3 separate regions of the Homo sapiens genome follow, and regions 2 and 3 are each reported to be linked to region 1. The links are microRNA targets in miRTarBase. Many come from high-throughput screens and were not tested one by one. Region 1 holds a microRNA gene; each other region holds the end of a gene's coding sequence.
Evidence for each region. The annotated mature microRNA hsa-miR-335-3p reads UUUUUCAUUAUUGCUCCUGACC and lies in region 1 at 2,221-2,242, shown strand. An mRNA with a match to its seed (bases 2 to 7 or 8) in the 3' UTR can be bound and repressed. Matches are read on the target gene's strand: a 7mer-m8 pairs with bases 2 to 8, a 7mer-A1 pairs with bases 2 to 7 and ends in A, and an 8mer does both.

Region 1 (3,261 bases):
GCACTTTTTTGAACCATTTCTAGTATTACCTTGAGAAGTAGGACCAAATGGTTCTATCCGTCTTATGGACAGGTACTTTGGAGAAAAAAAGAAATGACTGCCCTAATAATGCCTAAAAAATAGCCTGGGGAGCTGACATTGTTTAAGAAACATGGTTATTTTACCACTGTAAAACCACAGGCTTGTTTTTAGATTTTAGCAAAAAGTATCAGGGATATGGGGGGGAAAAGTATCTTGTAAGTTGAGGAAGTTAGCGAACGGGTAGGTAGATTACAGGCAATAGGGAAGAATGTGTGTACAGACGGAAAGCCATTTCCCCCAGGGCTTTAGCAATTAATTTATTTCAGCTCTATGACAACTCTAATTTTAGTTTTGGAGGGTATTATTTCCATTCTGGCTGTTTTGAGAGAACTTCCATTCTACTGACAATTCTTGATCTGTTGACCATCAGAAGTCATAGACTTGAAACAGAACGGTTTATAATTCCTGTTTGGCACTCCTTGTCAATGTGGATAAACTGACTTGTGCCTTTGAAGTCCTGGGCATGGGAGGGTTGGGTGTACCAACCAGTGCTCTTTTTCCAAAGACAAAATCAATTCTCACACGCTGGGTATGAGTTATGCCTTATCTGGGGGTGGGGGAGCATCTTAGGAAATTAAATGGAAACTTAAAGAGTCTGCTAAGAAAAGCAGAAATGTAATCTACCGCCTTGACCTCTCAAGAGATTAGATATTCAGGGTCATGACAAAGCTGCTTATGTTGGAATACACAGTGCAGCTATCTTACTTTCACAGACTGTTTACCCTGAGCAGTTTCTCAGCCCAAATCCAGAAAGGAGTACTAAATGGGGCTTCATTTAGGCAGGAGGGCTGAAAATCAGGAGTAGCTCTCTGCTTGAGGACATGTGATAAGTTACTACACACACACACTCTTTAAAACATGAGATATAGCACATATATATTTTTTGAACATTTTACTGGTTGGGGGTAGTGGGTAGATGGTAGAGCTTTTGGAGTAAATAAGAAAGAAGTTATTTTTTTCCTGGGAAGCCTTGATAAAAGTCAACGAAAGAGTGTCCAGCATTTAAGTCATGTCCCTTTTATTTATATAAAGTCCTCTTCAGCAGGTATTGGGAAGACCACAAGGGTAGGGGCTAAGGGGTTAAAGTCGGGGAGCAGAGGCAGAAGATTATATGTTGAAATAATGTATTTTTTTTCCTTAAGATTAGAATGATGAACAAATATGGTGAGTGCTATGGCAGACAGAGGTTTGATTATAGTCTCGGTCAGCTTTGTGCCTATGTGAAGGGCAATGTAATCATTGCATGGTAACAGCAATCTCCCACCCCATCTTACCAGGTTTTGGTTTGTAGATGAGTGGACAATGTTACCTGACTGCTTACAGTGGGTCTCTGCTTTTCCTACAGGATGAGGGAGTGGTGGGTCCAGGTGGGGCTGCTGGCCGTGCCCCTGCTTGCTGCGTACCTGCACATCCCACCCCCTCAGCTCTCCCCTGCCCTTCACTCATGGAAGTCTTCAGGCAAGTTTTTCACTTACAAGGGACTGCGTATCTTCTACCAAGGTAAGAAGTGGACTATTGGAAGTCCTGCGTGTATCGGTCACATAAGTCCCAGCTGAGGTATTTATTTTGTGGCTATTGGTCTCTTGTTGCTCCTTAATGATGGAGGAGAGTATCTCTCTCTCTTTCTGTGTAGTGTGCTTGCAGAGAAGCGCAGAAAACTGCTGGGAGAATGGGGGTAGGGACTGAGATTCCAACCTGCAGACCTTACCTTTTAGTATAAGTTTTCTTTGTAGCTTGATATGTATTCCAATATTAGTTTTTTTTTTTTTTTGAGCAACCTGTCAGGTAATATATAAAATATTAATAGATATAACCACCATTGGTTCTCTCTCCTTACCATCCCTGATTTCATTTTTTCTGTAGATTATTTGTAGTGTAACTGTGATTTAAGTCTTGATACCATTATATAAATTAATTTGCTAGTGATGATGATTATTATGACCACTACTTATCAAGTAATTACCATATGCCAGGCACTGAGTTATGTTTTCAGCCTTCATTGTTTAATCTTTACAACAGCATTTGGAGATAGGTGCCATTAACCTCATTTTATAGGTGAAGAAACTGAGAAACAGATTGGAAATGATTTGTTTTGAGCGGGGGTCAAGAGCAATAACGAAAAATGTTTGTCATAAACCGTTTTTCATTATTGCTCCTGACCTCCTCTCATTTGCTATATTCAATTAAGTAAGTATACAATTTTTATTATGTTGGCTTGGGTTACTTCCAGTTTTACTGTTTTAGAAAACTAATGTTGAAGTAAAAGCTTCATGTCCATACAGTTTATTTTTTCCTTACATTTTCAAACTATACTACTTGTATAAATGGAATGATTTTATTTGCACAGATTCTCAAGAACAAAACTCTTAGGCTAAAGTATATACAATTTTTAACTGCTTCTAAATTATTTTTGAAAACCTTATTACCAAATTTTCATGTCACTGGCAGTATATGAATATACCTGTTCTAATCCCATACTATTAGCAAGGTTAATATTGTCTAAATGTTTACCTAATTTAGATGATGCTGAATGCTTCCATATTGTCATATGCATTAAAAAAGTTCATGTTTATGTTGATTAAGCCCTTTTTATAGTTGACAGGATTTTGTAATAGTTTTATTATGTTTTTGATGTTAGATTGGGTCTCCTGCTGAATAAAAAGTGCTGAGCAAACAGCATAAGCTAAAGGTGTTCCTTGGGAATAGTTGCTGTATCTTAGAGAATTTCTGTGAGGCCATTCATGATAAAGTACAAAGAATTTGTAGTTTATGTGTTGTGATCATATGCTTTTAACTGAAAATTTACTTTTCACTGAAAAAATTTGCATATTACAGAACAAAAGGAGAAATGGGGAGATGCTGTTTAAAAACACCTAGGTGAAAGTAAACAAGGTGCCTTCAAGTATTTTCACATAGCATGATTTTTACAATGTTTTAATATACAGATTGAAAGGAGAAAAGGCCTGTTCTCACCTAACGCAGTTAAGCTTACATTTTACAAATAATTGTGTCATTTTAATGTCAATTTGGTCACAGTTGCTTGTTCTTTGTATCAGATTACTTAGATTTTAACATCTTCGAGGTTATTTTTATAGGGATTTGGCATAATTGATTGTACTTTCCTTCTTCCTAGACTCTGTGGGTGTGGTTGGAAGTCCAGAGATAGTTGTGCTTTTACAC
Region 2 (3,261 bases), not on the chromosome of region 1:
TTCATGCCCCGGTCCACTCAGCCTTTAACCTTTACCACTGCCACTTTTGCTGCCACCAAGTTCGGCTCTACCAAAATGAAGAATAGTGGCCGTAGCAACAAGGTTGCACGTACTTCTCCCATCAACCTCGGCTTGAATGTGAATGACCTCTTGAAGCAGAAAGCCATCTCTTCCTCAATGCACTCTCTGTATGGGCTTGGCTTGGGTAGCCAGCAGCAGCCACAGCAACAGCAGCAGCCAGCCCAGCCGCCACCGCCACCACCACCACCACAGCAGCAACAACAGCAGAAAACCTCTGCTCTTTCTCCTAATGCCAAGGAATTTATTTTTCCTAATATGCAGGGTCAAGGTAGTAGTACCAATGGAATGTTCCCAGGTGACAGCCCCCTTAACCTCAGTCCTCTCCAGTACAGTAATGCCTTTGATGTGTTTGCAGCCTATGGAGGCCTCAATGAGAAATCTTTTGTAGATGGCTTGAATTTTAGCTTAAATAACATGCAGTATTCTAACCAGCAATTCCAGCCTGTTATGGCTAACTAAAAAAAAGAAAATGTATCGTACAAGTTAAAATGCACGGGCCCAAGGGGGATTTTTTTTTTCACCTCCTTGAGAATTTTTTTTTTTAAGCTTATAGTAAGGATACATTCAAGCTTGGTTAAAAAAATAATAATAAAACATGCATCATTTTTCATTTGCCAACCAAGCACAAAGTTATTTTATACTGACTGTATATTTTAAAGTATACTCTCAGATATGGCCTCTTACAGTATTTAAGATATAGCAAGGACATGGCTGATTTTTTTTTATAAAAATTGGCACTAATAAGTGGGTTTATTGGTCTTTTCTAATTGTATAATTTAATTTAGTACAAAGTTTGTAAAATATCAGAGGATATATATATATTGTTTCTACGACATGGTATTGCATTTATATCTTTTTACTACAGTGATCTGTGACAGCAGCAGCTTCATGTTGTATTTTTTTTACTGAAATTGTAAAATATCCATCTTAAAGACATCAACTATTCTAAAAATTGTGTACAGGATATTCCTTTAGTGGTGGAATTAAAATGTACGAATACTTGCTTTTTCAAAAAAATGTATTTTCTGTTAAAAGTTTAAAGATTTTTGCTATATATTATGGAAGAAAAATGTAATCGTAAATATTAATTTTGTACCTATATTGTGCAATACTTGAAAAAAACGGTATAAAAGTATTTTGAGTCAGTGTCTTACATGTTAAGAGGGACTGAAATAGTTTATATTAAGTTTGTATTAAAATTCTTTAAAATTAAAAATGCCTATTGTCTTTGTTTTTAAGTGTTTTCTGAAGATCGACCTCTGGAGTTATTATGTTGTAAATGCTAATGATGGAAAAAGGCCTGACTCATTGAGTCACGAAGGAATAATGGAAAGCAGTTGCTCTACTGATGTACCAGATCGTGGTTTGCCACATAAAAAATGCTATCAAAACTATAGCCTGACCAGTGCTTGGTACAACTTTATTTTTTAACAGCCCTCTTCAGTCCACATTTGTCTACCCCATTATAGAGATGGTATGGTAAGGTTAGCTATACAGCAAGTTTCAAAATGTCATGCTGACATGGAGGAGTCAGGTGATAAGATGAAATTCCTTCGTGTAATCTGAGATGATTTATTTGAAATTTATATGGAGAGAGCATTGGATCAGTTTTCTGTTTTTGCTGAGGAAACTTGCTTGGACAAAACGGCTGACTGAACTTAGAAAAATTTACATCACTTTACTAATCTTTAAAGTTTAGCTATTGCATATAGCTAGAGAACTTATGGTCAAAATCTATTCACGGCTGGACAGATGGTTAGATGTTAGCATTTTCATTTTCCCAGCAAAAACGCTTATGTATTTAATTTTTTGCAAGTGGGTACCCAACCTGCTGGTTTGAAGGATTTAGAGATATTGACAATGTATCAAATTGGAGTGGCTTGGTGAGGATGGAGTTTTTTAAAACTGAAGAGTTGGGGAGAAGAACACTAAATGAGTCATTTCACTAAATGTCAATTGATACAGTATTGACATAGTATTGGTGAGAAAGTTAACGTCCATTTGATACAGTGTTGACATAGTATTGGTGAGAAAGCTGTCTTAAAAAACTTTATATGTACTTTTATAGTAAGAAACCAGCACTGCCTGGGTTACCAGTGAAATAAATTTGGTCTCATGAGCTTTTTGGACACCAGTCTACAAAAGCCTTTTGTCATTTACCCATGCAGTGTAGAGCAATACAAAGTTTTAAGGAAACAAGCACTGGAAATAACAGAGCTAAGCTGTTTGTCAGCTCCATGGTGAGGCTTTTGTTCTTTAGGGAACAGAACGAGGCTATGAAGAAGTATTGGAATAATGGGTGCAAGCAGCAGAGATCTGGTCTGCCAACACTTACCACTTACATGCTTTTGTGATCACGAAGTTTGAATAGCTGTAAGAACCATCAGGATAATGGCTTTAAGCACTAGTTTCTGCTACAGACTGATAAAGTTACATTTGGGAGAAAACTCTACTTATAAATGAAGGCTCAAGTGTAATGTGCTTTTTCTGAAAATCATAAGGCAGCTGGACGGAACATAATAGAATTTTTTTTTTTTTTGAGACGGAGTCTCTTGCTCTGTCACCCAGGCTGGAGTGCAGTGGCACCATCTCGGCTCACTGCAACCTTCCACCTCCCAGGTTCAAGTGATTCTCCTGCCTCAACTTCCCGAGTAGCTGAGACTACAGGCGCCCGCCACCATGTTGGCTAATTTTTGTATTTTTAGTAGAGACGGGGTTTCACCATGTTGACCAGGCTGGTCTCGAACTCCTGGCCTCAAATGAGCTGCCTGCCTTGGCTTCCCAAAGTGCTCTGATTACAGGCATGAGCCATTGCGCCTGGTCAACAATAGAATTTGAAACTGTCTGGAGCACTAATATATTCATTTTATTTTGAGACAAGGTCTCACTCTGTCACCCAGGCTGGAGTGCAAAGGGGCCATCTTGGCTTACTGCAACCTCCACTAAAGCGATTCTCCTGTCTCACTCTCCTGAATAGCTGGGATTATAGCTGCGTGCCACCGTTCCCTGCTAATTTTTGTATTTTTTGTAGAGGCAGGGTTTCGCCACGTTGCCTGGGCTGGTCTCAAACTCCTGAACTAAGGTGATCCGCCCGCATTGGCCTCCCAAAATGCTGAGATTACAGGCGTGAGCCACCACACCCAGCCAAGCACTAATATATTCAGATTTTAAATACTGAGG
Region 3 (3,261 bases), not on the chromosome of region 1:
AGATATCTATCAAACAGATAAAACCAAACAATATACTTTGTGGGAGAGCAATACACAAACGCTTAAAACAAAACTGTAAAGAAAGGAGTGATAATAGAATTCAGGATAGTGGTCCCTTTTTGGGGGAGGAGAGGGTTGTGATCAGAAAGGGGCATATTGGAGGTGTGGTAATATTTTGTTTCTTAACCTGGGTGTAGGAACATGAGCATTTACTTTGTTTTTAAATGGTATATTTTCACATGTTCTTGAACATATGCTAAATTTCTAACAAAAAGGAACTATGTAATAAACATGTAATATATAAAATCTATGTTGATTAATTTTTCTTAAATATTTGAAATGAATTATTTGAAGTACTCTGATAGTGAGAACTATAAGATTTAAGAAAAATTAGAGTATTTCAAGTATTTAACAAAGCTTATGGTTTAAGGAAACTTCTTTTCTACTGATATGATGAAACAATTTTCTTCTCCATGCTTCACAGCAAAAGCATTAATTTTGGGTTGTTATTAATCTTCCTTTTTTTCTACTTTGCAGCAAGATGAGAAGATGAAGTGAATTTATGGATTCTGGTTTTTCTGAATTTTCAAAGCATAAGGAATCAAAACAGAAATATAGTATCAAGAAGATGAAATGCTTAATGAAAAGGTTTTTTTTTTGTTTCTTTGGCCTTTCATGGAGTGTTGATTTGTCCATTCTTAATGTTTATTAATAGGTATATGTGCATAAAATAGCTATTTTGTAACATTAAACTTTTTGAGTCATTTTGGTCATCATATAACTTACCTTCCTGTTTATTTAAGCTTCTTTTTACCTAGTAGCCTTTAACCAAACAATAACCTTTTAACCAAATAAAATGTGTTAATAAATACCTTTGCATTGGTTATCTTGTATACTAGGCTGTCTTGTTTTGCTGTCTGTTTTTAACCCATTCAATATATGTGGACATCCAAAAGGGTTTAAAAGCCACCTCCTGCCCTGGCCCGTTTTCTCTCCCTTCATTCTTCTGTTTTCAGAAATACATGTTGAATGTCAGCTTCTGTATTATTTCTATTATATGTAATCTGATGACTTAGAGGAGGAGATTAACCTTTCAGGCTCTTTTGAATTTGGTTTTTATAATTTGGTTTTAAAGATCACTTACTCTTCCAGTAATAAGTAGTAATAAATCCTGTTCATATCTGAGATCAATACACAGTTTATTGAATTCAAATGACTACTCAAACTCTATTCCACCTAGATGGAAAACTTTTTTAGACAATATCTGACCACTAACGCGGTGGGCCCAGAAATCTGCATCTTAATCAGATGCTTCAGGTGAGTCCGTCCGAGGATTGTCCTAGTACCACACTTTGAGAGACTGCAGTGGGGGTACAGAGTGCTGGAGGGGTTTAGTCAATAGCTCTAGTGAAGGATGGATAGTTTTATTCAAAGAATCCCAGTTGATGAATGAAGAAGAAATGCTAGAATTAGAAAAATTGCAAACCCCTATTAAAACTACCGCTCAGGCAATGCTCAACAATGGATGTAAAACAATTAGGTGAAATGTTGATGGAGAAATTCATTACAAAGGAATAGCCCTCTGAACCCACTGATCAATGTTAGCATCATTACGAATGAAACAACCAGACACCATATGCTTCCTGCTGTGCTGCAATATTAATTATATGGTACCACCTATGAAGTGTTCTTGCCCTCTCCCCCCCAAAAAATTGAACCTGAATTTAATCAAAGCTTTAGATCTAATATTTAGTGCATAGGAAATAAGTAGAGTAGAAAAACAATACCAGGGAGAAGCAATTAGCCACATTCAAAAAATGGTTCATTTCAATAGAACAACTGACCTGGTTTCTTTTTCAATGTGTTAATAGTGTTAAAAAGTCTGTTTTAGATCAAAAGAGACTGATGAGACCACATGCAAATACATTGCACAGCTCTTGTTTGATTCAAAGAAGTCAAGTGTAAAAGACATTTTTTAGACACGTGAAATGGTGTTGCGGCTGACTAAAAGGATGTGTATGTGTGTTTTTGAAGTATTTAGGGCTAAAATATGTCCAGGATTGGCTTTTAAATACTACAAAAAATGGAGTATGCCAAAACGTTGACCATTGTTAAAGCTCAGTGAAGGGCAGGTAGATGCCAATTGCACTCTTCACTTTTATGTGCAAAGTTTGGAAAATTTCACAATAAAATTTTTGTGTTTACATAAATGAAATAACATGGGAAAATGTTCTAAGGTATGGCAAGTGAAAAAAGCCTGGAAAATAACTAGTTTGTCCCACTTAAGTTTTTAAAGGTGTTAAAAGTACATGTTTCAAAAAGTAAGGATAGACTAAAAAAGTGAACGGTGGTAAGTTCTAAGTTGTGGGCTTACAGGTGTTCTTTATTTTTATGCTTTGCTGTATTTTCCAAGTTTTTTTTTTTAAGTTTTCCAAGATGTTTTACATCTCTGTTCTTATTTACCAGATAAACTTTGTGGTTAGTTACTGGATAAACTGTAAATAGTGATAAAATTTTTAAGTTTATATCAAGATAGCACTTCATTTTAAAACCAGTAATTATTAGGTTGGTGCAAAATTAATTGCAGTTGTTGCCATTGGAAGTGATGGTAAAAACCGCAATTACTTTTGCACCAACCTTATATTTCTAAAAGATCAAGTTGTAAACCTATTTGTTTTCCCTAAGATCCGCTCTTGCAGAGTTGGAATAAATATGATTGTTTACACTTAAGAGTCCAGGACTACAGCAGGCCTGGTTGGAGGGGAGTTACTAATGTTCCCAGACTTAAATCCAGCTGGAACACCACCTAAAATATGCAGTAACATAAGACCATCAAAAGCAATGTCCCAGGACTTACAATGTTTGCTAAGACGCAAGAGGGTGTGACACAGACGCTAAGCGCCACTGGCGAGGAGATGAAGGGGTCGTCTTCATCTTCGCCGGATGATTTCCGCCCACATAGAGGGCGCCAGTGACGCCCACACACGTGCTGGTGTCCCGGGAAGAGTTCCTGGCAAAGAGCTCAGGAACGTTGGATCTTAATCAAGGCTTTCTCCGTCGGGGTGGATGGGTTGGACTTTAGGCTCCAGCAAGCCCCGCCCCACTCGGCGGGTCGGTGCCGCCGGGTCCCAGGTGCCCGCTACTTCCCAGAACCTCCGCCTCCCGCTCCGGGCCCTCGAACCAGCGCGGACACCACAATGGACCGGGCGTCCGAGCTGCTCTTCTACGTGAACGGCCGCAAGGTGAGCGCCCGCGGGCTTC

Region 2: the mRNA of TOB1 is a reported target of hsa-miR-335-3p. Seed matches in the 3' UTR shown: 7mer-A1 at 1,195-1,201.
Region 3: miRTarBase lists SGO2 as a target of hsa-miR-335-3p. Seed matches in the 3' UTR shown: 7mer-m8 at 641-647.

Annotation. Positions count from the first base shown.
Region 1 is chr7:130,493,942-130,497,202 of GRCh38, forward strand. MIR335 (microRNA 335) reads left to right here and starts at 2,170; the gene lies at 2,170-2,263. It overlaps MEST (mesoderm specific transcript), which reads left to right. Exons shown (of 12, transcript NM_002402.4): 2 at 1,427-1,581; 3 at 3,215-3,261.
Region 2 is chr17:50,860,259-50,863,519 of GRCh38, reverse strand. It overlaps TOB1 (transducer of ERBB2, 1), which reads left to right. Exons shown (of 2, transcript NM_005749.4): 2 at 1-1,297. The coding sequence ends at 540. Among named protein-coding and RNA genes, the nearest start is that of TOB1, 4.5 kb to the left of the region's middle.
Region 3 is chr2:200,582,912-200,586,172 of GRCh38, forward strand. SGO2 (shugoshin 2) reads left to right here. Exons shown (of 9, transcript NM_152524.6): 9 at 538-1,185. The coding sequence ends at 553. AOX1 (aldehyde oxidase 1) reads left to right here and starts at 3,103. Exons shown (of 35, transcript NM_001159.4): 1 at 3,103-3,242. The coding sequence starts at 3,198.